Linked DNA regions of Homo sapiens: region 2 is linked to region 1. The links come from fine-mapping of genetic effects on gene expression. A gene starts in region 1. The other region holds a variant in brackets. All regions are shown on one strand. Distances are between the middles of the regions. Region 1 holds the start of CENPQ (centromere protein Q). Region 2 overlaps CENPQ (centromere protein Q).

Evidence for each region. PIP is the estimated chance that this variant, and not a neighbour inherited with it, causes the effect.
Region 2: its variant is fine-mapped to the expression of CENPQ in fibroblasts (GTEx, PIP above 0.99). The same link has a PIP of 0.9 or more in subcutaneous fat and tibial nerve.

What each region holds. Positions count from the first base shown.
Region 1 is chr6:49,459,296-49,469,572 of GRCh38, reverse strand. CENPQ (centromere protein Q) reads right to left here and starts at 6,203. Exons shown (of 9, transcript NM_018132.4): 1 at 6,120-6,203. It overlaps MMUT (methylmalonyl-CoA mutase), which reads left to right and starts at 6,320. Exons shown (of 13, transcript NM_000255.4): 1 at 6,320-6,470; 2 at 10,068-10,277. The coding sequence starts at 10,107. RefSeq lists enhancers at 5,337-6,236, 6,581-6,650, 6,237-7,137.
Region 2 is chr6:49,488,081-49,504,162 of GRCh38, reverse strand. It overlaps CENPQ (centromere protein Q), which reads right to left. Exons shown (of 9, transcript NM_018132.4): 7 at 15,692-15,811; 8 at 15,479-15,556; 9 at 11,056-12,019. The coding sequence ends at 11,888. GLYATL3 (glycine-N-acyltransferase like 3) reads right to left here and starts at 4,240. Exons shown (of 6, transcript NM_001010904.2): 1 at 4,121-4,240. The variant T/C (reference allele first, on the strand shown) is at 11,724.

The DNA of each region.
Region 1 (10,277 bases):
ACTGAATACCCTGCCCTCCCACAAATTACAAAACAGACATGGGATTGGAAATGGGGATGTTGATAAAATTTAGAGTAATTTTCCCTCTTTTATTACCAAACTAATTTCTGATAAAAGGAACAGAAGAATGAAATACTTATTCTTGCATTACACCATAAGAAGTGGATAGAAGTTAGGTGCAGTATACAAGGAAATATGTATATGCACATATTAGCTATATATGCCTAGAAAATATATATATACACATATAAACATATACACATATTAGCCATAGCTAGATATACAGATAAATTATTCATCATTTATTTTCTAAACATTCAGAATTATTATACTGATACAGTTTAAATATATGTGCAGATTTAGAGAAAGACAATGATAAATCTATCCTCTCAAACGTTAAAAGCTTCAAACTCCCCTCCACACAAGACTGGAAAAAAAATTGGGAAAGAATTAACAGAAAGATCACAAACTACATTTAGCAACCACATATCACACCAGTTACAAAAAGCAGTGGAAGTCAAAATATCACTTTACCCTGCTCTTGAACAATGTGATACCTTACCAAACACTCATTCTCTATCTTGTGTTCAATTTCTAAAATGCCTAATTACCTCAACTTTACATCTACACCCTTATACTTCCCCTACTTAAAAACCCATCCACATGACAGAATTTCACTTGTAGATCTCTCCTGGAAGGGCTGACATGTACAATAGTTCAAGTTGTTCACTGAATAAGAGCATCCAGGTGAAGGGACAAGTAACAGCTGAGATTTTAGATTAAAAATGGTACACATTCCTTCTCATGATTGTTAATGAGCAGTAAGGTCTATGTTCCCTTGTCTTAAATCTTGGCAGACTCTGAAGCTGTTTGAGCAGTAGAATATAGTAGAAGTGATTCTGTTCTAGCTTACTGGCTTAGACATGAAGAGACTGGCAACTTTGACTTCTTCTTGCTTAGAAACACTTGCTTTTTTTTTAAGAAGTCTTGCACTGTCGCTTGGGCTGGAGTGCAGTGGTGCGATCTCGGCTCACTGCTGCAACCTCTGCCTCCCAGGTTTAAGCGATTCTCCTGCCTCAGCCTTCCAAGTAGCTGGGACTACAGGCACCCCCCACCACGCCCAGCTAATTTTCTGTATTTTTAGTAGAGACGGGGTTTCACCATGTTGTTCAGGCCGGTCTCGAACTCCTGACCTCAAGTGATCCTCCTGCCTCGGTCTCCCAAAGCGCTGAGATTACAGGCGTGAGCCACTGAGCCCGGCCAACACTTGCTCTTATAACCCAGCCACCACCATAGGAGGAAGGCCAACACCGAGAGGAACTGAAACCCCAGGAAAGTCTTAGCTGAGCTCCCAGCCAAGAGCCAGCACCAACTGGCCAGTCTGGTACATGTACCTAAGTCAATATGCTGCAGCCCACACTGTGTGGACAAGACATGAGCAAGCCCTGCCTAGTCCCTCCCAATCCCAAATTTTGGAACAAATTAATTGAGTAAAAAATTTACCCCAATACGTTCTGTGTAACATTCAAACTCTTTACCATGCCATTTTTAGTCCTTACCAACCTAACTCTGCCTACCTTTTCATACTTCTCTCCTACTACTCCTTAATCAAATCTCCCTCTCTAGCTAGATTTGATGATTTCCTGAACACACTTTGAGTAATTCTGCCTCCCAAACATACACTGTACCTTCTACCTGAGCAGCTCTCTTCTGTCTCTGCCCACCCTCTCAGATCATGAGCCACCTTCTTTTCAAAATCTTCCTAACTATTCTACTTCATTTCTCTCTAAGTCTGTGGCTCTTTTGCTCTGTCTCATTTGGTACTTATTTATAGCTTGGGTCCATTAATCATTTTCTTCTTGATATTCTTTATTAAAATAACATGTAATTTAGCGCTACTCCAAATCTCATTCAAACTGTTTGCCATAATCAAGTGTGGAAATTGAAGGTAATCATTTAGAAACTTTTGTAGCAATTTGATAGAGTAATTTTATGCACATTGAACCTTATCATAAAATAATTAGCCTTGTCTTTGCCATATCATTTTCTAGTAATTAGTATTTTTTTAAAAAAGACTTTTTTCAGAACAGTTTTAGGTTTACAGAAAATTGAGCAAAACATACAGAAACTTCTTATATAATCCCTGCCCTTCCCCATTCCCTGCAACCTCTAGTATTAACATCACACACCAAACTGGTACATTTGCTGTAATTGTTGACACATCATATTACCCAAAATCCATTGTTTACATCAGAGTTCACTCCTGGTATTATACCACAAGGGAGTTTGACTAATAATTGATTTTTAATTGCATTTTACAAAAGTATCAGTTATGACTGATTAGAAATAAAAAGCAAAACTGGTCTAACAGAGTTTGAGAAGTACTGTTAACAATGAAACCTACTTGAGGCACTAGACTATAGCACAAAGTTTCTCAACCTCAGCACTATTAACATTTTAGATGGATCATTCTTTGTTGTGGAGACTGTGGTGTGTATTGTAGGATGTTTAGCAGCATGCTTGGGTCTACGTAGACCGTCAGATGCTAGAATACTTCCAACCCCTGAGTAGAGCCAATCAAAATTGTTTCCAGACATTGCCAAATGTCTCCTGGGTCAAAATCAACCCAGGTTGAGAACACTACCATAATGGTTAAGAGCAGTCCTGCAACGAGGGTAAATTGTTCAAGCTCCAAATCTAGCCCTGCCACTTAATTAACTGTATATCTTTGGGCCAGTAAATTAACTCATTTTCCCCATTAGTAAAACGATTAATAAAAGTACTAACATTAAAGGCTTTTGTAAAGCAAAAATGATGTAACAAAGAATATATAAACCACCTAGAACGGTATTTGAGACATAGTAAGAATCCAATAAACAAAAGACATTGTTTCTATCACTTCTGGGCTACTCACAGTGCATATAAAAATGAATAGGTATTTTGTCCCATTCTTAGATCCAAGGGAAACCACAGCTTAGTGATAGTGCACAGGTAGAGACAGATATGAAAATAATTACTATGTGTATTTATAAATGTTATAAAGAGGCAAGTGAGCGAATGACTGTCTTAAACTGGTTTGTGCTATGGGTAAGAATGTACAGGCATAACTCTTTTTATTGTGTTTCACTTTATTGAGCCTCGCAGACACTGTATTTTGTTGTTGTTGTCTTACAAACTAAAGGTTTGTGGCAAGCCTGCACTGAACAACTATATTGATGCCATTTTTCCAACAGATTGTGCTCACTCTTCACATTTCTGTGTCATATTTTGATAACTCTCACAATATTTCAAACCTTTTCATTATTATATCTGTTATGGTGATTGATGTTACTCTGTAATTGTTTTAGGGCACCATGAACCATGCCAATATCAGACAGAGAACTTAATAGGTAAATGTTGCGTTGTGTTTTGACTGCTCCACCAACTGGCTGTTCCCTGCCTCTCTCCCTCTCCTTAGGCCTCCCTATTCCCTGAGACACAATGATATTGAAATTAGGCCATTTAATAACCCTACAATGGCCTCTAAGTGTTCAAGTGAAAGCAAAAATCACACCTCTCTCACTTTAAATTAAAAGCTAGAAATGTTTAAGCAAGGTGAGGTAGGCATGTCAAAAGCCAAGATAGGCTGGAAACTACACCAGTTAGCCAAGCTGTGAATGCAAAGGAAAAGTTCTTGAAGGAAATTTAAAGTGCTATTCCAGTGAAGACATGAATGATAAGAAAGCAAAAACAGCCTTATTACTGATAGGGAGAAAGTTTGAGTGGTCCGGGATTGAAGATCAAACTAGCCACAACACGCCCTTAAACCAAAGACGAATTCATGGCAAGGTCTTAACTCACTTCAATTCTATGAAAGCTGAGAGAGGTGAGAAAGCTGTAGCAAAAGAGCCTGAAGCTAGCAGAGCTTGGTTCCTGAGGTTTAAGGAAGTAAGCTATCTGCATAACATGAAAGTACAAAGTGAAGCAGCAAGTGCTGATGCAGAAGCTGCAGCAAGTTATCCAGTTCTAGGTAAGATAATTGATGAAGGGGCTACACTAAACAACAGATTTTCAATGAAGACAAAACAGCCTTCTATTGGAAGATGCTATCTAGGACTTTCATATCTAGAAAGAAGTCATTGCCTGGCTTCAAAGCTTCAAAAGACAGGCTGACTCTCTTGTAGGGGCTAATATGGGTGGTGACTTGAAGCCAATGCTCATTGACCATTCTGAAATATCCTAGGGCTCTTATTCTTTTAAATCTACTCTGTCTGTGCTCTGGAAATGGAAGAACAAAGCATGAGTGACAGCACATCTGTTTACAGCACGGTTTACTGAGTATTTTAAGCCCATCTTTGAGACCTACAGCTCACAAAAAGATTCCTTTCAAAATAATACTGCTCAATGACCACGTACTTGGTCACCCAAGAGCTCTGATAGAGATGTACAAGGAGATTAATGCTGTTTTCATGTCTGCTAACACAACATCCATTCTGCAGCCCATGAATCAAAGAATAATTTTGACTTTCAAGTTATATTATTTAAGAAATACATTTTGTAAAGCTATAGCTGCCCTAGACAGTGATTCCTCTGATGGATCTGGGCAAAATAAATTGAAAACTTCTGGAAATGATTCACCATCCCAAATGCTAGTAAGAACATTCATGATTCACGGGAGGAGGTCAAAATATCAACATTAACAGGAGTCTGGAAAAAGTTGATTCCAACCCTCATGGATGACTTTGTAAAGGTCATGACTTTGTTCAAGACTTCAGTGGAGGAAGTGATGAAAGATCTGGTGGCAATAGCAAGAGAAATAGTGGAGCCTGAAGATGTACCTGAATTGCTGCAATCTCATGATAAAACTAGTGGAAAAGAAGTTGCTTCTTATGAATGAGCGAAGTTCTTGAGATGGAATCTACCCCTGGTGAAGATGCTGTGAATATTCTTGAAATATCAACAAAGAATTCAGAATATCACAAAACCTTAGTTGCTAAAGCAATGGTAGGGGTTAAGAGGATTTACTCTAATTTTGAAAGAAGTTCTACAGTGGGTAAAATGCTTTCAAACAGCATCACATGCTACAGAGAAATCTTTAGTGAATGGAAGAGTCAACTGCTGTACAAAATTCATTATTTTGTTATTTTAAGAAACTGCCACAGCAACTCCAATCTTCAGCAACCATCACCCTGATTGGTCAACAGCCATCAACATCAAGCAAGACCCTCCACCAGCAAAAAGATTAGGACTTGCTGAAGGCTGAGATGATTAGTAGCATTTTTTAGCAATAAAATATTTTAAAATTACAGCATGTAATTTTTTTTTACACATAATGCTATTGCACACTTAATAGGTTACAATACAGTGTAAATACAACTGTTATATGCACTGGGAAACCAAAAAAATCGTGTGACAGGCTTTATTGGTCTGGAACCGACCCCGCAATATCTCGGAAGTATGTTTGTACATTATTCATAGAAAAAGTATTATTCTAATAACATTTTGAAATATTTAGCCAAAAAGTAGAAAAATGAAGCATCCAAGGGAAAACAGTAAAACTCGGACGGCAGGAAAGCTCGGAAAAAACACAAAAAACCTGGCGTGTTCAGGGACAGGATAATCCAGCGAGGCTTTTAATGTGTATAGGAGAAGTGAAAAGAAATAAGGCTGGTACAGTAGTTTGCCGCCAGACTATATGCTTTAGGAGAGAGGGAGGCATTCTAGGTTGTCTTGTTTTTCTTACCAGCTTGTTGATACTCATGGGACTCAATTACCTCAATTTAGACCTCTATGTGGGCACAAGAGTGAGTAGGACTCCTGGAGAAACACAGACACTAATGTCCAAGGCTGCACTTGACTTCACTAGTGCCCGCGGGAGAAATTTAGCAATGAGGATGAGCCATGAGGATGATTCGGGAGAAATAGGAAGTATTCATGGCTTTGCTCCCTCCCCCCTAATCAAACATCTCAATCTCAGGATCCTAAGGGCAGATCTTTTAGGACATCGGGCATTTCCCCGTAAGCAATCCCCCCTCGCTATCCTCAAATGCAAACTGCGGAGTCTGCCACAAACGCGTTGGCTTTAAAACTCATCCCTGAACTTTAGATCCACCCAGCCGGTTAAGGATATCACGACTCACCACTGATTCTTCTTGCACCCTTCTGAGAGCCGCGCTTAGAGTAATTCGCGCCCAAACATTCGTAAACAGAGGAGACCCGGAAGTGGGTGGGAAGAAAGCGGAAACGGGCATCTAACCCTACCCCTAAACGTCATCAGGAATGCGCCCATGAGAGCGCTATTAGATTGGCTGGAGGGAGGGCGGTGTCGGCCTACGCCCCCAGAGTCGTCCGGCTGACGCTGGCGGTGGCGCGGTTTGTGTGGGCTTGGTGAGGGCGGGGAGGCCTGGCTGTGTGGATGTCTGACAGGTGAGGCGGGGGACGCAGAAGTGCAGCCGCCCTCTCCCACAGCGGAGTCCAAAACAGGCCTACCAGTGAGTAGGACGTACACCTTTCAGATCGCTCCATTCTTCTGGCTCCTGTCCCTCCTCTACCCCTGTATTTTGAACTTTTGTCCTTTCTCTCCCGCTCTGTCCTTTACTTCTGTCTTCTTTACCTTCCTACTGTGACGGGATCCCACTCTCTGCCTTCTCCTTAGGTTTAGATTTTCACTTCGACCAACCTCTAGTTTTGGGCGAAGTCCCTGGCAATTCGGAGGTACTTCTGGAAAGAAGGTGCTTTTAATACTTTAGGGGCCATGTCGGTATCTTCTTTGGCCACTTAAGCACCCTGAACTGTTCCCGTTGGCAGAGGTCACTTTTTGTATGGTTCCAAAGGGATGCGCCTGCTTCATGGCTGCCTCCCTTCTAGGTTGTGGGTTATGTTATTGTCAGGGTTTTTCTAAGAGTTTTCGGGAATAAAAGTGATTTTCTGTGTGTAAACAGGATTAAGAGTGTAAACAGTGTTAAGAGTGAGAGGTAGAATAGAAAAGACAGGTCTAAATTGACATAAAAGCTTACATTACTAACTCGTTCTCAGTTTTATCTAGAAAGAAGGTGGTCTTAGGGAAGCTCGAAGCCCTGGATAACGTATGTGTGTAAAGTTTTAAACCACTTGATGATTTTCTGCCAATATAATTTTGTGTTTAATGATGTACTTATGCTAATATCAAATATAATTTTCATGCCCTATGTTTCCATCTCCAAACCCAACTAGTTGAACATCAAAGTACCTTCTTGAAGTATTAATGTGCAATCATACGTCAGCAGCCAAAGCTTGAAACTTATTGGTTCAAGAAATCTTTTTCTCACTGATTTGTTTTTGAGGTGTGGGGGTGGGATTAATCATTGCTCTTTAACTCATTTTAGTTGTCAGTAACATATTTGCTTTGCATGTTGCTTCTTTGAATGCTTGAGGCCTCTCTTGATGGTCTTCTGAGAAAATTCAGAGGTCGTATTGCCATCCGCAGTAGTTGTGTTTTTATCTAAAAATGGTGTCTGTTTCCAGCCTCCACCAATTCACATGTGATTTTCAGGAAGTCACTTAAACGGGGCTCTTTCCTATTAGTTGTTCAGATTTAGGAAAGCCCACGTGAAATGAGTGTGATATTTCCTGCCAACAGTTTAGTCTCAGGTGGTTTTCAAATTACCTTTTACAGGATTACTATTGAAACAGTTTAGTTGTTGCTTCATTATTTTTTTCATCCACCTTTTAAGCTAGTAAATGTAGTGGATGGCTTGCAAAAAGATGGATGACAAGGACCCCATGGATTTAAAGAATAAAAATCGTGCTAGTATTAAAAAAATGGAAGGTTTTTTTGTTTTGTTTTGAGACGGGGTCTCTCTCTGTTGCCCAGGTTGGAGTGCAGTGGCACGATCTCTGCTCACTGCAACCTCTGCTTCCCGGGTTGAAGTGATTCTCATGCCTCAGCCTCCTGAGTACCTGGGATTACTGGTGTGCGCCACCATGCCCAGCTAATTTTTGTATTTTTAGTAGAGACTGGGTTTCACCGTGTTGGCCAGGCTGGTCTTGAACCCCTGACCTCAGGTGATCCACCTGCCTCGGCCTCCTGAAGTGCTGGGATTCCAGGCGTGAACCACCATGCCCAGCCTTTTTTGTTATGTTTCCATTTAGACTTTGTTCTATGTACTTTTTACATAGTTGAACCTGTTGCACTTACAATTACGTGTCTTGAGTCTTTTACTTACTACTTTTTGAGTTTGTTTCTCTTTTTTTGGGAAACTATGCATAACACATTTTTAACTTTTTACTTATACATATATTTACAGAAACTGCATAAAACATAACTGTATAATTTGATGAATTTCCACAAACAGAATATATCTATGTAAGTGGCAATCAGATCAAGACCATTACCCCCAAAAGCCCCTCTCTTGCTCCTGTTGTATTCTAGCAACCATTAAGTAACCATTCTTCTGACTTCTGACATCAAAGATTAGTTTTGCCAGCTTTCTAAACATATTTTGATAACTACATGAAATTCTATCATTTGTATATGCTGTAATTCACTTATTCATATGTTATGAGATACTTACGATTTTCCTAAGTTTTCTCTATTACAAATAAAACTATAGGAAACATCTATTTTATATATTACTACAGAAGCTTTCCCAGGAGTAATGTTCCTCAGTGGAATGGCATAAACATTTCTGAAGCATTTCATGTATATTGACAATTTACTTTCCAAAGTAGTTAAAATAGTTAATACTGTCACCAGTGGTTTATGTCTCTTGTTTAACGACCCCATAATAAGTGTTGAGTATTGATTTCATTTAAGCTTTACTAAACTGATAGGTAAGAAGTGGTATGGAAAATAAAATTTGAAACTCCCTTTACTTGTTGCCTTATCCAGTATAAAACACATAGTATAGTGAATATATTAATGTTTGCATCTCAATATCTTTTTAAACAATGGGCTCTATATGTTTACGCTGTATGACTCTGACAAGTTTTAGTAATTCAGGTAAACAGTTTACGGCTTTGTGAGGTGGGATTTTGATCAAGCGACTTTATTTCTCTGAGCCTCAGTTTCTACATCTGGAAAATGATGACGCTGAACCCAGCAACCTAGTATAAAAGTCTATGCTAGTTATCCGGAATATGCAGCTCTAATGTTGGAGCAGTTTATAAACTAGCACAGAAGTAGATTATTGAAGAGGCCATTTAGCTCACCTTATGGGTTCTGGGATGAATTGTGTGCATATTAGTTAAATGCAAGGACTTTGAAACAGGCTGCATAGGTTCCAATCAATGCTGGCTCTTCTGTGCCTCAGTTTCCTAATCTGTAAAATAAGGATAATAATAGTACCTACCTCTTAGGGGTATTGTAAAGATTAAAATTGCTACTCTCTGTGATGTCTTTATAGCCTTCTATGTTACTGGCACATAGAAACGCTGCAAATTGGAGATAATGCCTTAGCTGAATTAGCCAGAGAAGAACATTTTAGGCAGAAGGAAGAGCAAGAGCAAATTCAGAAAACTTTGACATATGTGCAGCCAACTGTAGGTAATCCAGTATTTCTAGTGCACAAAATGCATAAAGAGGACAAAGACAGAGATGGGTCTGAGGGGGAAACAGAGACCAGTTCATGAAGGCCTTGAATGCCTGTTTGTCTTATTCATCACTTTTTTCTCTATTACCCAACATAATGTCGGTCATAAACTGATATTTAATAAAAGCACTTTGAATGAAAAAATTAATTAGGAGGCTGTAGTATATCTTCCACATGATACAGAGTCTTTGAAAAATTCCATGAGGAGTGTGACATAGTCATATTTACATTGATGTCATTGTATGGAAGGGATTCGTATAGAATGGAGTAGAAAAGGAGTAAGACTGGTCAGTAAGACCAGCTAAGAGGCTACTGAGGAAAAAGACTGAAACTACAGGACTGATAGTAATTGTGAAGAAGAGGGGCCAAAGTTATAAAATATCAGGTGCAGGAAGCAGAAAAGGGGAAGAAATGAAATCAGACTAATACATCCTCTTTCTTTTCTGTTCCTTTCTTATGAGTAGCTCCTATTTCCCACCCCCTCTTCTAAATGTTTTTACTCTATGTTTCTTTTTCTAGGTCAGTTCTTATTTCTATTGGGTGTTTCCATGCTCCACCATGTTAAGAGCTAAGAATCAGCTTTTTTTACTTTCACCTCATTACCTGAGGCAGGTAAAAGAATCATCAGGCTCCAGGCTCATACAGCAACGACTTCTACACCAGCAACAGCCCCTTCACCCAGAATGGGCTGCCCTGGCTAAAAAGCAGCTGAAAGGCAAAAACCCAGAA
Region 2 (16,082 bases), 32 kb before region 1:
AACTTGCCTCCAGCGATCCAGGTCTGGCTCAACCTCTGCCTCCTCCTGATTACACTGATCCTTTTACCCTCTGTCACCCCACAGACTGTTAAAAACTACGAATATTGGGCCTATATTCCTTTTCTTCTTCTTATTCGAGCCATGACGTGGATGGACGCTCCTATCGAGGTCTATGTTAATGATAGTATTTGGATGCCTGGTTCTGTAGACGATCGTTGTCCTGCCCAACCTTCAGAAGAAGGAACTCCTTTCAATATCACTTTAGGTTTTAGGTATCCACCTTTGTGCCTGGGACCCACAAATGGATGTCTCTCATTAGATATTCAAATTTGGGCAGTCACACTACCATCTGGTCACTCTTTAGGACACTTGGTATCAGGGATCTCATTAAAACCTCTAAGACAGATCAAAACATGAATCTCTGATTATATTCACACATCCCAATATAAGCCTTTAGGACCTGTGTGTCCTATCAACTTGTCTTCAAATGCTGACAAATTAATGTGGAAGGATTGTGTTAGTTCAGAAGGAGTGTGTTATTTAATTCTTCTCACTATACCATTGTTGATTGGGCTCCTAAAGGTCATATTACTAATGATTGCTCTCAAGGTCACAGAGATTGTCAACACTTTCTCTATGATATTACTTATCAAAAAAGTAGTGACAACCCTCCCCTATTATATCATATATTTAACTCCTTTTTTCCTTTTAAGTGGAAAGGGGCAGGGGTTGCCCCTCCAAAGCCAAGGCTCATTGTTCCCCACTTAGGACCTGAACATTCAGAATTATGGAGATTAACCATAGATATGACTGGTATGAGAGTTTGGGCTGGAGAAAGTGTTATAAGTAAATCCACCTTGTCACCTCGAAAACTAAGACAACAGATTGATTTACACTACTATTTTCACACAGCCAAAAATATCACTATGGCAATCGTCAAAAGGTCAATTCAAAGATGGGACAGTAAAGATGATGAGGACTTATATCCCCCCCTTTGCTAATGTCCCCACACCACCTCTCATACAACCTATTCCCCCCACCATGCATTCACAAAAAGAGTACCATCCCAAAATAAATATACTATCTATATGGAGTCCAATAAAACTATACCACTTAAAAGTTGTGTTAAACCACCATATATGTTATTAGTAGGAAAGATGCATATTAGTTCAAAAACCAACATAATTACATGTGTTAGTTGTTACTTGTATGCTTGGATTGACTCATCCTTTAATCAATATCATAGTATTTTAGTAGTCAGAGCCAGAGAAGGTATTTGGCTTCCCGTAGCCTTACATAGGCCTTGGGAATCTTCCCCTTCTATCCATGTTATTAATAATATTCTACAGAAAATTATTAAAAGGAGTAAATTATTTATTTTTACATTAATTGCAGTAATAATGGTTTGATTGCTGTTACTGTGACTGCTGCTACTGCTGGAGTTGCATTACATCAATCTATTCAAACTGTTCATTTTGTGGATAAATGGCAAAAAGATTCTACTTGGATGTGGAATTCTCAGTCAGGTATTGATCAAAAATTGGCCAATCAAATTAATAACCTGACAAACTGTTATCTGGATGGGAGATAGAATTATAAGAATTATAAGTTTAGAACATAGATTTCAAATGCAATGTGATTGGAATACTTCTGATTTTCTATAAATCCGTTTCAATGTAATGAGTCTGTTCACAATTGGGAATCAGTAAAATGCCATTTACAAGGAAGTGAAGATAATTTAAGTTTAGACATAAGCAAGCTAAAAGCACAGATTTTTGAGGCCTGTCAAGCACACTTAACTGCTTTACCCAGTGCTGAAGTTTTAGACGGTGTATCTGAGGGGTTATCTAATCTCAACCCCATTCAATGGGTAAAATCCTTGGGAGGATCCACTATTGTTAATTTTGTTCTATGTATAATTTGTGCTATTGGTTTATTGTTCATATACAAAATTGGAAAAAATATTCTTCAATCCAATCATGATCAGTGCCAAGCTATGATTGCTATGGTTCATTTAAATCAGAGAAAAGGAGGAGATGTAGGGAGACCCCCTGAAACTATTGCTATGGAGTAAAAGATGAAATGCTCCTGATTATTGTAAATACAAAATTGCATGCAGGATTGTGTAAAGACAATGCCAGGTTGGACTGCCAGAATGAACCAATAGCACGTGATGTGCTTCCCCCTGCAGACAGCCTATGAATGGATGTGCATTCAGGGAGGTTTCACATCACCAAGATTCCTATCCCAGAAAAGCAGATGTTCATAGCTCTGGGAATGGAATGCGACCCTTGTGGATAGCCTATAAATGGACGAATGAGGGGTGCCTGTCCATATGGATAAGATAGGGCTATAACACGCTCATCTTGCCACAGCTCTTCTAGGCCTCTTTAGGGTTAAGACATATTTCCTTCTGAGGATTTCTGGTCTAACTAGTTGTCTAGCTTCACATCCTGTTTCTATGGATTGTTTGTAACCAGCTTTTGCTGCAACTGTTACTGCTGATTAATATCCTGCTAATCATAGGTTATGGAAAGACTGTGTTTCTGTTTTAAGGCTCTGTTAGAAATTACTGATGCACACACTATATTGTAAATTCTTATCTCTGTATACTGTACTTCTGCATACAGATATTATGTTAAAGAATTACTTCATCCCCATGTGACCATCTCACCTCATAATCAAATGACCCTAAATCCCTCACTAACCTACCGCTGCCCTCACTAAACTTAATAATAAATGCTGGTATAGTCAGTGCATTGGCGGCACCGCGGGACCTGCTTTCACTATCTTGTGTGAGTCTCTTATTTCTCGACCTGCCAATCCACCTAGGAACAAAGAGAGAGCCCCGTTGCATTGCGGGCTGCTGGCCAGCTCCCGCGATACACACCACCAACGCCTGGCTAGTTTTTTTTATATTTTTAGTAGAGATGGGGGGTTTCACCATGTTGGCTAGGCTGATCTCAAACTCCTGACCTCATGTGATCCACCTGCCTTGGCCCCCCAAAGTGCTGGGATTACAGGTGTGAGCCACCCTGCCTGGCCTCCAGCTTCTTAATAGCAAAACCTCTACTTAATTGGCTTCAACTTACCCTTCTAGACTATACTCATGCAACTCACAAATTACTCAGGGTGACAAACTAAAATCAGAGACATTCCCCCATGGGTTCATGCAGAGAGGACACTACAATTAATCTACATTTGACAATACCCTTTCAGTAAACAGTGATTCATTTCATAAGGATCTTTCATTAAATAGAAATTTTTTTAATGCCACAAGGTAGAGCAGAAATTCTCATTGATGCAGAAAATATTTTCTACACATTTTTGTAACATGTTAGAGAGTCATAATGACGATTAACTCTGAAAGCTACAAGAGCAGAATGTCATATCCTTACCACTTGATTAGTACTGTCCATAATCAGTATGTTCTGGAATTGGAAGTTAAAGGTTGGTAACTCCTTTAACCAAATTATAACCAATAGACTCACTGTTTGAAAGTATTTGTCAAGAAAAAGAATTATGCTCATGTAAGTTTTAGAAACTGAAGTTTCTTTGGGGGCATTTGAGTGTTTATAAGCACAGAGCAAGCATCTAAAATATTTTATTCATTAATATTTATCATAACAATGAAAGCATGACACTCTCCTGGGAGACTTTTAAGTCTTATAAGCAATAAAACATAAGATCTCTGTTTTTGTAATGTAATACAATATTTACAATATAATGGTGGGCATTTGTTAATGAGGAAATACATTTTTTTAAGCACTTGGAATCCAATGCTAGTAATTATTTTTCATATGTTAGGATTTTTGTTCAGAGAGGTTGCTCTAGTTGTGCCCATATCACAATGCAAACAAATTTATACTTGGTAATACTTATTTTCCTCACATCAAAATTTAAGAGTAAAAATTTTCCTCATATCAAAATTTAGGAGTTAAAAAAACCCCAAACAAAAACACGCCAAGAAACAAAACAAAATATATCTTTCCTTGAAACCTAATTACAATGTATTCGTTCTGTATAAGGTTGGATTTCATCTCTTCTCTATTTTTCCCATCCCTTTCTGCAATTATAAACTATGACTTGAAATGTATTATATTAATGAATAAATGTTTACCTGCTGGGAGTTCAGTCCAGAACTGAGGGTTTTCAGCTGTGTATCAGTCCAGTAGCCCTTTTATATAAATGGTAAGTTTATTCTTCAAGGCTACCTCTCTAATTAGCCCTTAGTGGAAACAGGAGGGAGAGAAAAAAAAAAAAGTGCCCACACCTGTAGACGGGGAGGAGTTTATGATGGTGATCAGGTGAAAATCATCTCACATAGAGCACAGGCATTTCCACTCCATCTCTTCCTTTTTATCACATTTAGCCTTATGGTGTAAAAGCCAATGAATACTAATCTTGATTTAGAGATAGGTATTTTCTAGCCATAAAACCTGTCTATTAATCAGTATCTCATGAAGGAGAATAAAAAGAAGAGGAGCCCAGGCAAATGGTAGTACGATAAGAAAGTAATATAAAGGTATTGACCCTTTAGTTATTTTTTTATATATTCTGAAGAAAATGATTTTGCTGCCCTAAACTTCCAAGGCTGAAAGGGGGTAATCTCTACAGAGGATACATAAGTACATGAGAGTAATTTCAAGAATTTTAATTACTTCAGCCTATTCTTTTAAATGAAAAGTCATTCAGAGTTTACTCACTTCTTTCAAAAGACTGCAATTTTAACCACCATGTAAGTATTTACTTGGACATCTCAGCACTCAATATCTACATCTTGAAATAATATGCAACACAAATGTCTCAACGGCATATGCAGAGTGCTTCAGTTTGAATGTGGTTAGATGGGAGGATTCTGTTTACCACATTTAGGTCTCATAAAATGGTAAGGTAGGGCATTCTTCACTAGAGGACACTGAGCTTTGTAATACAATGGGCAGCTAGTAGTTGACAGCAAATGGAGAAATTGTATTAGATGTCAATTACTAGATGTCAAAATAAGAGTTTTTGATCTTGCTGTATACATTGATAACTTCTTTTTTAAAAGATGTTACTGAGAACAAAGTATACCTACTCTTGGACCTAAGGAGCCTATATAAATATAGTTTTCTAAATATTAACTGAGTAAAATATATTTTTTAAAAGTTAAGCTTTTTTTTTATTTGCAAAACAGGAACTCCTTTAGACAGTAAGTGCAATATCCTAGGGGAAACTTTAAAAAGTTTGGGGTCTGGTTATTTATAAACTCTGAGACATGTAAAAGTCTCCCCAAATTTAGATTACGTCTTGTTTCCAAGTGCATTTAAAACAGAAATTTGAGCTCTTTGTTCTTTATAAAACATCAGAACTAATTGGAACTAATTTTTGCCTGAAGAAAAAAATAATAAAAAGGCAAAACATTCCTTTTCCTGGAAAGTATGGTTGAAGGTAATTAAATTTGAGATATGTATATATATTAGGCTAAGGCAAACTTTTAACTCTGAGATTAACGGAAAAAGGAGGAAAAAAGGAGATTCCCAATGTAAGATTAATTTAAAGGAATTGTCTTCTGAAAACCCAGGTGAACAAATCCGCAATACATATTATCACTTTACTCAGAAAAATACATCAGATTGTACTTTGCTGTAATAGGGGTTACTCATTAGATTCACTAGCCCCTTCTACTTGTAGTTTATCAGAAAACTCCTAAGAAAAGGTTCAATTATTTTTTCACTTCCTTGTTCTATCATTTACTATCTGTGTGATCTCAAGTTATTTAGCCTCCCTGTGCCGCAGTTTCTTCACCTGCAGGATGGAGATAATAATGAATGTTATGAGGTTTAATTCCCATAGGGTTTCCATTAAGATTAAACATTGGCATAAATACATGTATATAGGTAATGGCATTGGACTAGTACCTGGCATGTAGCAAGCACTCAATAAATGTCAGCCATTTTTCTCATTGCTATGACTGTCTTATATCCCTGTTGTACTATTTGAAAACTTACAGTAATTTTAAGGACAACTCTAGGGGGTAGAAATGGGGCAAAATTGGCTAAGGCACATTTATTTCTATTAGTTTAAAAATGTATACATATGTAACAAACCTGCACGTTGTGCACATGTACCCTAGAACTTAAAGTATTAAAAAAAATGAACAACTTAATTTTAAAAATGTGCTCTATTGTAGTTCTAATGAATTCAGAAAATGTCCCTCTTTTATCTTCTTCTTTGTCTAGTTTTAACAACTACTATATCCAATTTTGGAGATGGTTGCTAAAGCAACTTCACAGCCCTGATAAGAACAGAGGCTACTTTAATAAGACAGCAAACACCTAAGTCAAGAAAAATTGGTTCTATGGTGGCTTAGTTGTGAAGAAACACATTTAGTAACAACTCTTAACCAAAATTGCGAATTAGAAAACAAAAATAGCTCACTTTTTGACATAATAAAACCCAACTGAGAAATTAAAATTTCTCTCTGCTTTTGCTTGCCTTCTTTCCCTTCTCTCTCTCAAAGCTAAATATTTCTTAACAATGAATGAAACATGAGAGGATTTAGACTTATGTTTAGAAACTAAGCCAACCCGTATAACTCAAATACTAATTTTGACAGGTGCAACTGCATATTTTTGGTAAACAGGGAATGCCAAGAAATTCTATCCAACCAAATAAACAAAAGTAAATCCTTTAATTTTAGGTTCCAGTGCAGGTGGCTCGTATTTAAACAAAGCCTGTTTGTTGAACATATGCCCAACTGGGAGTTGGGGAAAATCAAAGGGCTCATATAAAGTAAGAATTTGAAGTGGCCGACATTACACTAAGGTTCTGCAACATATCTGTAAAGTCTGCCTCTCAAAACAGTTCTACCAATTCACCTTCCTTTAGCACAAGTACTCGGTGCCCATTTTTCAGTATGTTCAGCAATTTTCTTTCAGCTTTTTCCCGTCTTCGTCAATTTGATAGGTGAAAATATGTTTTAATTTGCATTTAAATGGTGAAGTTAAGGTTGATCATCTTTCAAATACTTATGGATGTTTTCCTTTGAGAATTGCCCATTTTCCTATTTGTATTTAACCTATTTGTTAATGATATTTCAGAGCTCTTTATTTAAAAAAGTTTTATTTCTTTGTTTTATTTATATTGTAGATATTTTCCTATTTGTGATGTGTCTTTGGCTTGATTTTGTTTTATTTTTATTTTTTATTTTTTGAGACAGTCTCACTCTGTTGCCCAAGCTGGAGTGCAGTGGCACGATCTCATCTCACTACAACCTCTGCCTCCCAGGGTCAAGCGATTCTCCTGCCCCAGCCTCCTGAGTAGCTGGGATTACAGGCATGCACCATCATGCCCGGCTAATTTTTGTATTTTTAGTAGAGACAGGGTTTCACCATGTTGGCCAGGCTGGTCTCGAACTCCTGACCTCAGGTGATCCACCCACCTCGGCCTCCCAAAGTGCTGGGATTACAGGCATGAACTGCCATGCCCGGCCGGTTTTGTATTTTTAAAAATCTTATTTCAAAAAGTTCAAAATATTATGTAATAATCTTTCATGATTTTACTTTTGCTTATATGCATAATAGGGCATTTGCTACCCTGACATCCACTGTTCATTTCTTTCTTTTTAGCTTCTATTTTTATATTTAACTTTATTTAGTGGGAATGTACTTAGGCATAAAGTAGGAATATTAAACATCCTCTCACCCTCCATTATGTAGTTAGCCAGTTTTATGAAGACCATTTATTAATAAATATTTTTCTGTATTTCATTTGAAATGCCATCTTTATCATATGCTACATTTTAATACAATATATCCTCTATCTCAAAAGTGTATTTTTTTTGTTATTGTTTAAGTTTCTGACATTGGCATTTATCAGTCACTAGAGAAGAGATGTATCATAGTTGGCATGGGCTGTGCATGGGAGAACTTAGATGGCTGAGGTCACTACAGAGGAGGACTGTTATTTGAATTATTGGGACCATGTATAGTCAAAGTTTATTTATTTCTTTATTTTTATTTTTTTGAGATGGAGTCTCACTCTGTCACCTAGGCTGGAGTGTAGTGTCACTATCTGGGCTAACTGCAATCTCTGCCTCCCGGGTTCACGCGAGTCTCCTGCCTCAGCCTCCTGATTAGAGGAGCCCGCCACTGCGCCCGGCTAATTTTGGTATTTTTAGTAGAGACGGGGTTTCACCATGTTGGCCAGGCTGGTCTCGAACTCCTGACCTCAGGTGATCTGCCCGCCTCAGCCTCCCAAAGTGCTGAGATTACAGGTGTGAGCCACTGCGCCCGGCAGTTTAATTTTATTTGGATCTTGTCTTGGGTCTCTTTAGTGTTGCCATAAAGGAATACCTGAGGCTGGGTATTTTATAAACAAAAGAGATTTATTTGGCTCATCGTTCTGTAGGCTGCACAAAAAGCACGGTGCCAGCATCTGCTTCTGGCCAGGGACTCAGGCTGCTTCTACTCATGGTGGAATGTGAAGGGGAGCTGGCATTTGCAGATCATGTGGTGAGAGAGAAAACAAGAAAGAGATGGGGAGATGCTAGGCTTTTTAACAAGCAGTTCTCATGGGAACCAAGAGAACTTATTTACTCCTGGGAGAATGTCACCAAGCCATTCATGGGGGATCTGTTCCCAAATTTCTCCCATCTGGCCCCACCTCCAATATTGGGCATCAAATTTCAACATAAGATTTGGTGGCATGAAAAACAAATCTCATGTCTTTCTTGCATTGCAAAATACAATTATTCCATCCCCCAAAGTCTTAACTTGTTCCAGCATCAACTCAAAAGTCTAAAGTCTCATTTGAGACTCAAGGCAAGTTCCTTACAACTGTGAACCTGTAAAATAAAAAAAGAAGTTATTTACTTCCAAGATACAGTGGTGGTGCAGACATTCCCATTCCAAAAGGGAGGAATAGGCCAGAAGAAAGGGGTAATAGGCCTCATGTGAGTCCCAAACCTATCAGGACAGATATTAAATATTAAAGCTCCAAAATAATCTGCTTTGACTCCATGTCCCGCATCCTAAGAACACTGGTTCAAGGGGTGGGTTCCAGAGCCTCAGGCATCCCCATCCCCATGGCTTTGCTGGGTGCAGCCCACGTAGCTGCTCTCGTGGGTTGGAATCCAATACCTGCAGCTCTTCCAGGCTGAGATTGTAAGCTGTTGGTGGCTCTACCATTCTGAGGTTGGAGAGTGGTGCCCCTGCTCCATCTGCTCCACTAGGCACTTCTCTAGTAGAGGCTCTCAGACCCTGTGGCAGCCTTCTTTCTGGGCACCCAGGCTTTCTAATACATCCTCTCAAATGTAAGTGGAAGCTGCCAAGTCTCCACTACTCTTGCATTCTGCATGCTTGCAGACTTAACACCACATGGAAGTCTCCAAGGCTTACTGGGTACACCTTCCAGAGCAGCAGCCTGAGGCCCTTTGAGCTGGTGCCGCTGGGGTGTGGGGAGCAGTATCACCTGCCCCATCAAAAAGCCATTCTTTCATTCTAAACTTCTTAATCTGTGATGGGAGGGGTGGCAAAGATTTCTGAAATAGCTTTGAGACATTTTTTCCATAGTCTTATTAGCACCTGGCCCTTTTTAGTCATGCTCATCTCTTTAGCAAACTATTGCTGCTGCTTGGTCATACTCTTAGATTCCTCTCCTAAAAACACTCTTCTTTCCTTCTCTAACACAAGGCAAGGCTGCACATTTTCCAATTTTCCTCTGGTCTCTACTGTAAGCAGTTAGAAGTAACCATGCAGCAGCCTGAGCACTTTGCTGGTTAGAAATTTCTTTTCCCAGATACCCTAGGCCATCTCTTAAATGAAGCCTTCCATAAAGCCCTAGAGCATGGACACAATGCAGACAAGTTCTTTGCTACGGTGTAACAAGTGTGACTTTTGCTTCAGTAACTTATAAGTTCATCATTTCCATCTAAGGCTTCCTCAGTATGACCTTTGCTGTCTCTTTTTCTATAAGCATTTTGGTACACAACTACTTAACCAATCTCTAAGAAGTTCTACACTTTCCCTTGTCTTCCCTGTTTTCTCCTGAACCCTCCAAACTCTTCCAACCTCTGCCTATTACCCAGTTCAAAAGCTACTCCCACATTTTCAGGCATCTTTAGAGCAATGCCTCACTCCTGAATACCAATTTTCTTAGTATGTTTAGTGTTGCTATAAAGGAATATTTAAGGCTGGGTAATTTATTAATGAAGAGATTTGGCTCATGTTTCTGCAGGCTGTACAAGAAGCATGGCACCAGCATCTATGGCACCACGCCATTCATGAGCGATCCACGCCATGATCTAAACAACTCCCACCAGGCCCCGCTTCCAATATTGGGGATCAAATTTCAACATGAGGTTGGTGGGGCCAAATAAACCCTAGGCAAACCATAACAGATCTGTAATTAATTCTTAAATTCTTTCCAAAGAGTACACCAAAATGCAGTCTTATTTAAAGAAAATACTGTGTATGTTTTGGATTGGATGCTACCTACCAGAAGATATTGTAGATCTCTTAAAGTTAGATTATAAACTCTTCAAAGCTACAAGAGTAGTATGGCCAGTTCACACAGGGTGAAGAACTGTATCACTCAGCAACAATGGTAAGTTAAAATCCCAGTTAACTATCAGTTATCTGTTAAACAGATGCCCTGAGAGAAATGGCATACATAATTCCTCCCCCACCACCAAAAGCTACTATAACATTAGTGTTAAAAATCACTGAGTTAGGGCTCTACTACTCATTCTAAAAACATGAAGCTTTAAGTTTCCAAGTGAAGGGTTTTTAAGACATTTTGTAATAATCTTTACTTTTAGTCACTTTGCCAGGTTTTTCTTTGAGATTTTATTTTCCTCCAAAATCTATTAATAGGCCTTCTTTACCATTATTCCTATGAGGATATTGCTTGTGACCCTTTTCTTGAGCTGCCCCAGGGTCCTCATGTGTGATCTCCTCACTACACTGAAAACCCAACTTGTTTAACTACAGGTTTGTTGCCAGTGGTCTCTGCCTGAAGGGTGTTAACAGAATTATGGCATCTCCCAAATTAACTGATATTATAGGTCACATAAAAAAGTAATTGCAGTCATTTTATTTTACAGACTAAAAAAAAAAAAAAAAACCCAAGACAGTATACTGTAGTTTGTTAGAAATAATTTTTTATACACTAGGTTATAACTTATTCACATATATAAGCTTATTATCATAATAAGAAAAGGTTTATATATTTTGGGTTTTCTTGTTTTAATAAAATAAATGTGCTAAGGTTCCTTTTTAATACTTTTTGGGAATATGTTTTGATGACAGTAGAAAATATTCAACATTAATTCACTAAACAACCAAAGAAGTAAAATTTTGATACTACCTCCAAAGTTAAAGATAGCAGGCATATCTTAACTACTTCCCAAAAAGACTAGGGAGTTAGGTAAAAGAGTGAAGGCATTTGAGGATTTTTCAAGTTCCAGATGACCAGACAGAAACTGTAAGCCATTGGCTACAGAATGAATGATAGCAAACACTAAGGTTTTTATGCACTAGACAGTGTATGTAAACACTTACTTATCACAGCTCCTGATATGAGCTGTTAACCAATAAATGAGTTCCATTCAGGCATTATAAACTACTAGATCCTTAAGGCAATTCCTATTTTATGGTTTTAGGCAAATACTTATAGATACAGCAATATAAATGTTAGTTTCCTAGATTTGGCAACTGCTAAAAACAGTCTTCAGAACTACA[T/C]TAGATGCTAATGATAGAACTACAAAGACTAATTTTAAAGTGCATATCAGGAGATAATAAATCCTGCAGAAGCCTTAGCCTCTGTACATATAATCATAGGTTAACAGTTTTACAAATTCACGAACATTAAATTAATATGGAACAATCTAAAAAAAAAACACTCTTTAAGATGCATCCAGTTTCTTATAGGCTTCTTCAATGAAGGTTGACATGCTCTTCATCTGTGATGAATTATGAAGAATATCCAAGTCCTTTAGAAGAGCATTCTGGTTTGGAATTAGCGCCAAAATTTCTTTCTGTGGGAAAGATAGTATTAAATGTAGTTGTTAACATTTTATTATGAGAAATCTCAAATGTATGTTAGAGAGAACAGTAAAATAAACCTTAAGTATCTATCATCCAACTTCAATAATTGTCAACGAATCGCCATTCTTCTTTCAAATCTATCTCTCCCTCTCCCCATCCTGCTCCTTTCACCACTGGTAAATGATAGGATTTGTTTGTTTGTTTGTTTTTGTTTTTTTGAGGTGGAGTTTTGCTCTTCTTGCCCAGGCTGGAGTACAATGGCGCAGTCCTGGCTCACTGCAACCTCCAGCTCCCAGGTTCAAGCAATTCTCCTGCCTCAGCCTCCCGAATAGCTGGGATTACAGGCATGTGCCACCACACCTGGCTAATTTTGTATTTTTAGTAGAGATGGGGTTTCTCCATGTTGGTCAGGCTGTTCTCGAACTCCTGACCTCAGGCAATCCGCCTGCCTTGGCCTCCCAAAGTGCTGGGATTACAGGTGTGAGCCACTGTGCCCAGCCAATAGGAAAATTTCAAATTACTTCTTGAGAAAACATGAAGACTTTCCAATGCTACAAACATTTATACTACAATGTCTACTAGAGCCCTTGGAAGAAATAGTTTACTACAAATAAGACAGTACTATTTTATAAGGAGTTATATGCTATTGTTAGAAGCATTAAAAAAACCAAACTGTCAGTATTTACTTCTAGAAATGTATCCTACAATTATGACTATACAAATCAGTAAAGACATATGTACAAGGGTGTACCCAGTCTTACCTGTATTAAAAAAATTATGTATTTCCATCAGTAATTTACAAATTATATGACCTCCATACAACAGAATGTTACATAGCTATCAACAAAAATGAGAGATCTACGTGACTGACAAGATGTTCAAACTATACAGTCGAATGAGAAAAGTAATTTGCCAAACAGTTTATATCAGGTTCCATTTGTTTAAAGAACGAAATAGGACATAATGTTTTCATATATGTAATGTATAATTGGTCTATGATATACCAGGATGCCTCATTTTACCGTGTTCCCAGACACTGCATTTTTTACAAACTGAAGGTTTGTGGCAACTCTGTGCAAAGGAGGTCTATCAGCACCATTTTTCCAAAAGCACATGCTCACTTTGTATCTCTACATCACATTTTGGTAATTCTTGTAATAGTTCAAACTTTAAAAATTATTACGGTATCTGTTATGGTGATCTATGCCCAGTGTTCTTTGATGGAACTGCTGTAATTGTTCTGGGTGCCATAACTGCAACCATATCAAACAGTGAACTGAATTGGTAATTGTTATGTGTTCTGACGGCTCCACCAACCGGCCATTTATTTCCCAGTTTCTCTCCCTCTCCTTGGGCCTCCCTATTCCCTGTGACACAACGATATTGAAATTAGGCCAGTTAATAATGCTACAATGGCCTCTAAGTGTTCAGGTGAAAAGAAGAATCATGTCTCTTACTTTAAATCAAAAACTAGAGATTACTAAGTTTAGTGAGGAAGGCCTATCAAAAGCCACGCAAACCAAAAGCTAGGCCTCTTGTGCCAAACGCCCAAGTTGTGAATGCAAAGGAAAAGTTCTTGAAGAAAATTTAAAGTGCTACTTCAGTGAATACATGAATAATGAGAAAGCAAAACAGCCTTATTGTTGATATGGGAAGTCTGAGTGGTCTGGATGGAAGATCAAACCAGCCACGACATTCCCTTAAACCAAATCCTAATCCACAGCAAGGCCCTAACTGTTTTCAAGTCTATGAAGGCTGACAGAGGTGAGGAAGTTGCAGAAGAAAAGTTTGAAGCTAGCAGAAGTTAGTTCATAAGGTTTAAGGAAAGAAGCTGTGTTTATAACATAAAAAGTGCAAGGTGAAGCAGCAAGTGCTGATAGAAAAATTACAGCTAGTTACCCAGAAGACCTAGCTAGCTAAGATCACTGGTGAAGGTGGCTATAGTAAACAACATATTTTCAATGTAAATAAAACAGCATTCTATTGGAAGAAGATGCTATCTCTAGGACTTTGATAGTTGGAAAAGAGAAGGCAATGCCTGGCTTCAAAGCTTTAAAGGAGATGCTTTTGTTAGGCTCTTGTTAGGGGCTAATGCAGCTGGTGACATGAAGTTGAAGCCAATGCTCACTGATCATTCTGAAAATCCCAGGGTCCTTAATTCTACTAAATCAACTACATCTGTGTTGTCTGTGCTCTGTAAATGGAACAACAAAGCCTGGATGACAGTACAACTGTTTAGAGCATGGCTTACTGAATATTTTAAGCCCACTGTTAAGAGCTACTGCTCAGAAAAGAAGATTCCTTTGAAAATATTACTGCTCATTGAAAATGTTCACAGTTACCCAAGAGCTCTGATGAAGATATACAAGGAGATTAATGTTGTTTTCACATCTGCTAACACATCTGTTCTGCAGCCTCTGAATCAAAGAGTCATTTCAATTTTCAAGTCTTATCACTTAAGAAATACATTTCATAAGGCTATAGCTGCCCTAGGTAGTGATTTCTCTGATGGATCTGGGCAAAATAAATTGTAAACATATTAAAATAAATTTATCATTCTAGATGTCAGTAAGAGCATTCATGATTCACAAGAGGAAGTCAAAATACCAATAACAGGAGTTTAGAAAAAATGGATTCAATTTTGAATCCTCATGGATGACTTTGAGAAGTTCAAGACTTTAGTGGAGGAAGTGACTGAAGATGTGGTGGAAACAGCAAGAGAACCAGAATTAGAAGTGGAGCCTGAAGATGTACCTGAATTGCTGCAATCTCATGATAAAAATTGGATGGACGAGGAGTTACTTCTTATGGATGAGCAAAGAAAGTGGTTTCTTGAGATGGAATCTATTCATGATGAAGATGTTATGAACATAGTTGAAATATCAATGAAGGATATAGTATATGACAAAAACTTAGCTGACAAAGCTGTGACAAGGAATGAGAGAACTGACTCCAATTTTGAAGGAGGTTCTACTGTGGGTAAAATGCTATGAAACAGCATCACATGCTACAGGGAAAACTTTCGTGAAAGGAAGAATCAACTGATGTGGCAAATTTCATTGTCTTCTTATTTTAAGAAATTGCCACATGCATCCCAACCTTCAGTAATCACCACGCTATCAGTCAGCAGCCATCAACATTGAGGCAAGACCCTCCACTGGCAAAAAGATTACGACCTGCTGAAGGTGCAGATGATTGTTAACATTTTTTAGCAGTAAAGCGTTTTCTAAATTAAGGTATGTCCCTTTAAAAAAAAAAAAAAGAAATAATGCTTTTTCACACTTACTAGACTACAGTATAGCGTAAACATAACTTCCATATGCCGTGGGAAACCAAAACATTTGTGTGACTTGCGTTATTGCAGTATTTGCTTTTTTGCTGTGGTCTGAATCCAAATTTGCAACATCTCTAAAGTATGCCTGTAATCAATATGGTAAATAGGCACTTACCTGAAGTGTGGGTGCTTTGAGAGTTTTCTGAGAAAGTTCCGGAAGAGAGAGTACTCCACTACTATTTATTTGATGCATCTAAAGTAGAAGAAAGCTACAGATTATTTCAAAAAGCTGATTTCTCTCATCATATTATACTCGAAAGTTATCTTTGCATAATTTAACCATTAAAAATTATATCCAAATTCCAATAATACAGTTTAAAATAATTACCTGTTTTACTCTCTCCTCTTCTTCTTCCACCTCACTTGCCAGAATCTGAATTTTGTTCTTTAGGCTCTGAATATTCCCAGTCATTAACTCTGTGGTCTCTACCATTTTATCTATTTCTTCCTGAGTCAGAAAGAGAAAAAAAACATTTTAACTTAAACACATTATTATATTAAATCCTAATAGATATTGTTATACATACACATTTTAAAAAAACACCATATATATTTAAAACATTTTTAGAAGCAACTGGTGAATTTACTTTTGTTTCTTTCAAAAAAGAGACTTCTTGGAAAGCTGGTATGTCAAGGTATTAATGTGTTATAAGGATATCTAATTTCCCTGGAATAAGGAGATGTACATGAACACTTCCTCAAAACGTACCAATGCTGGT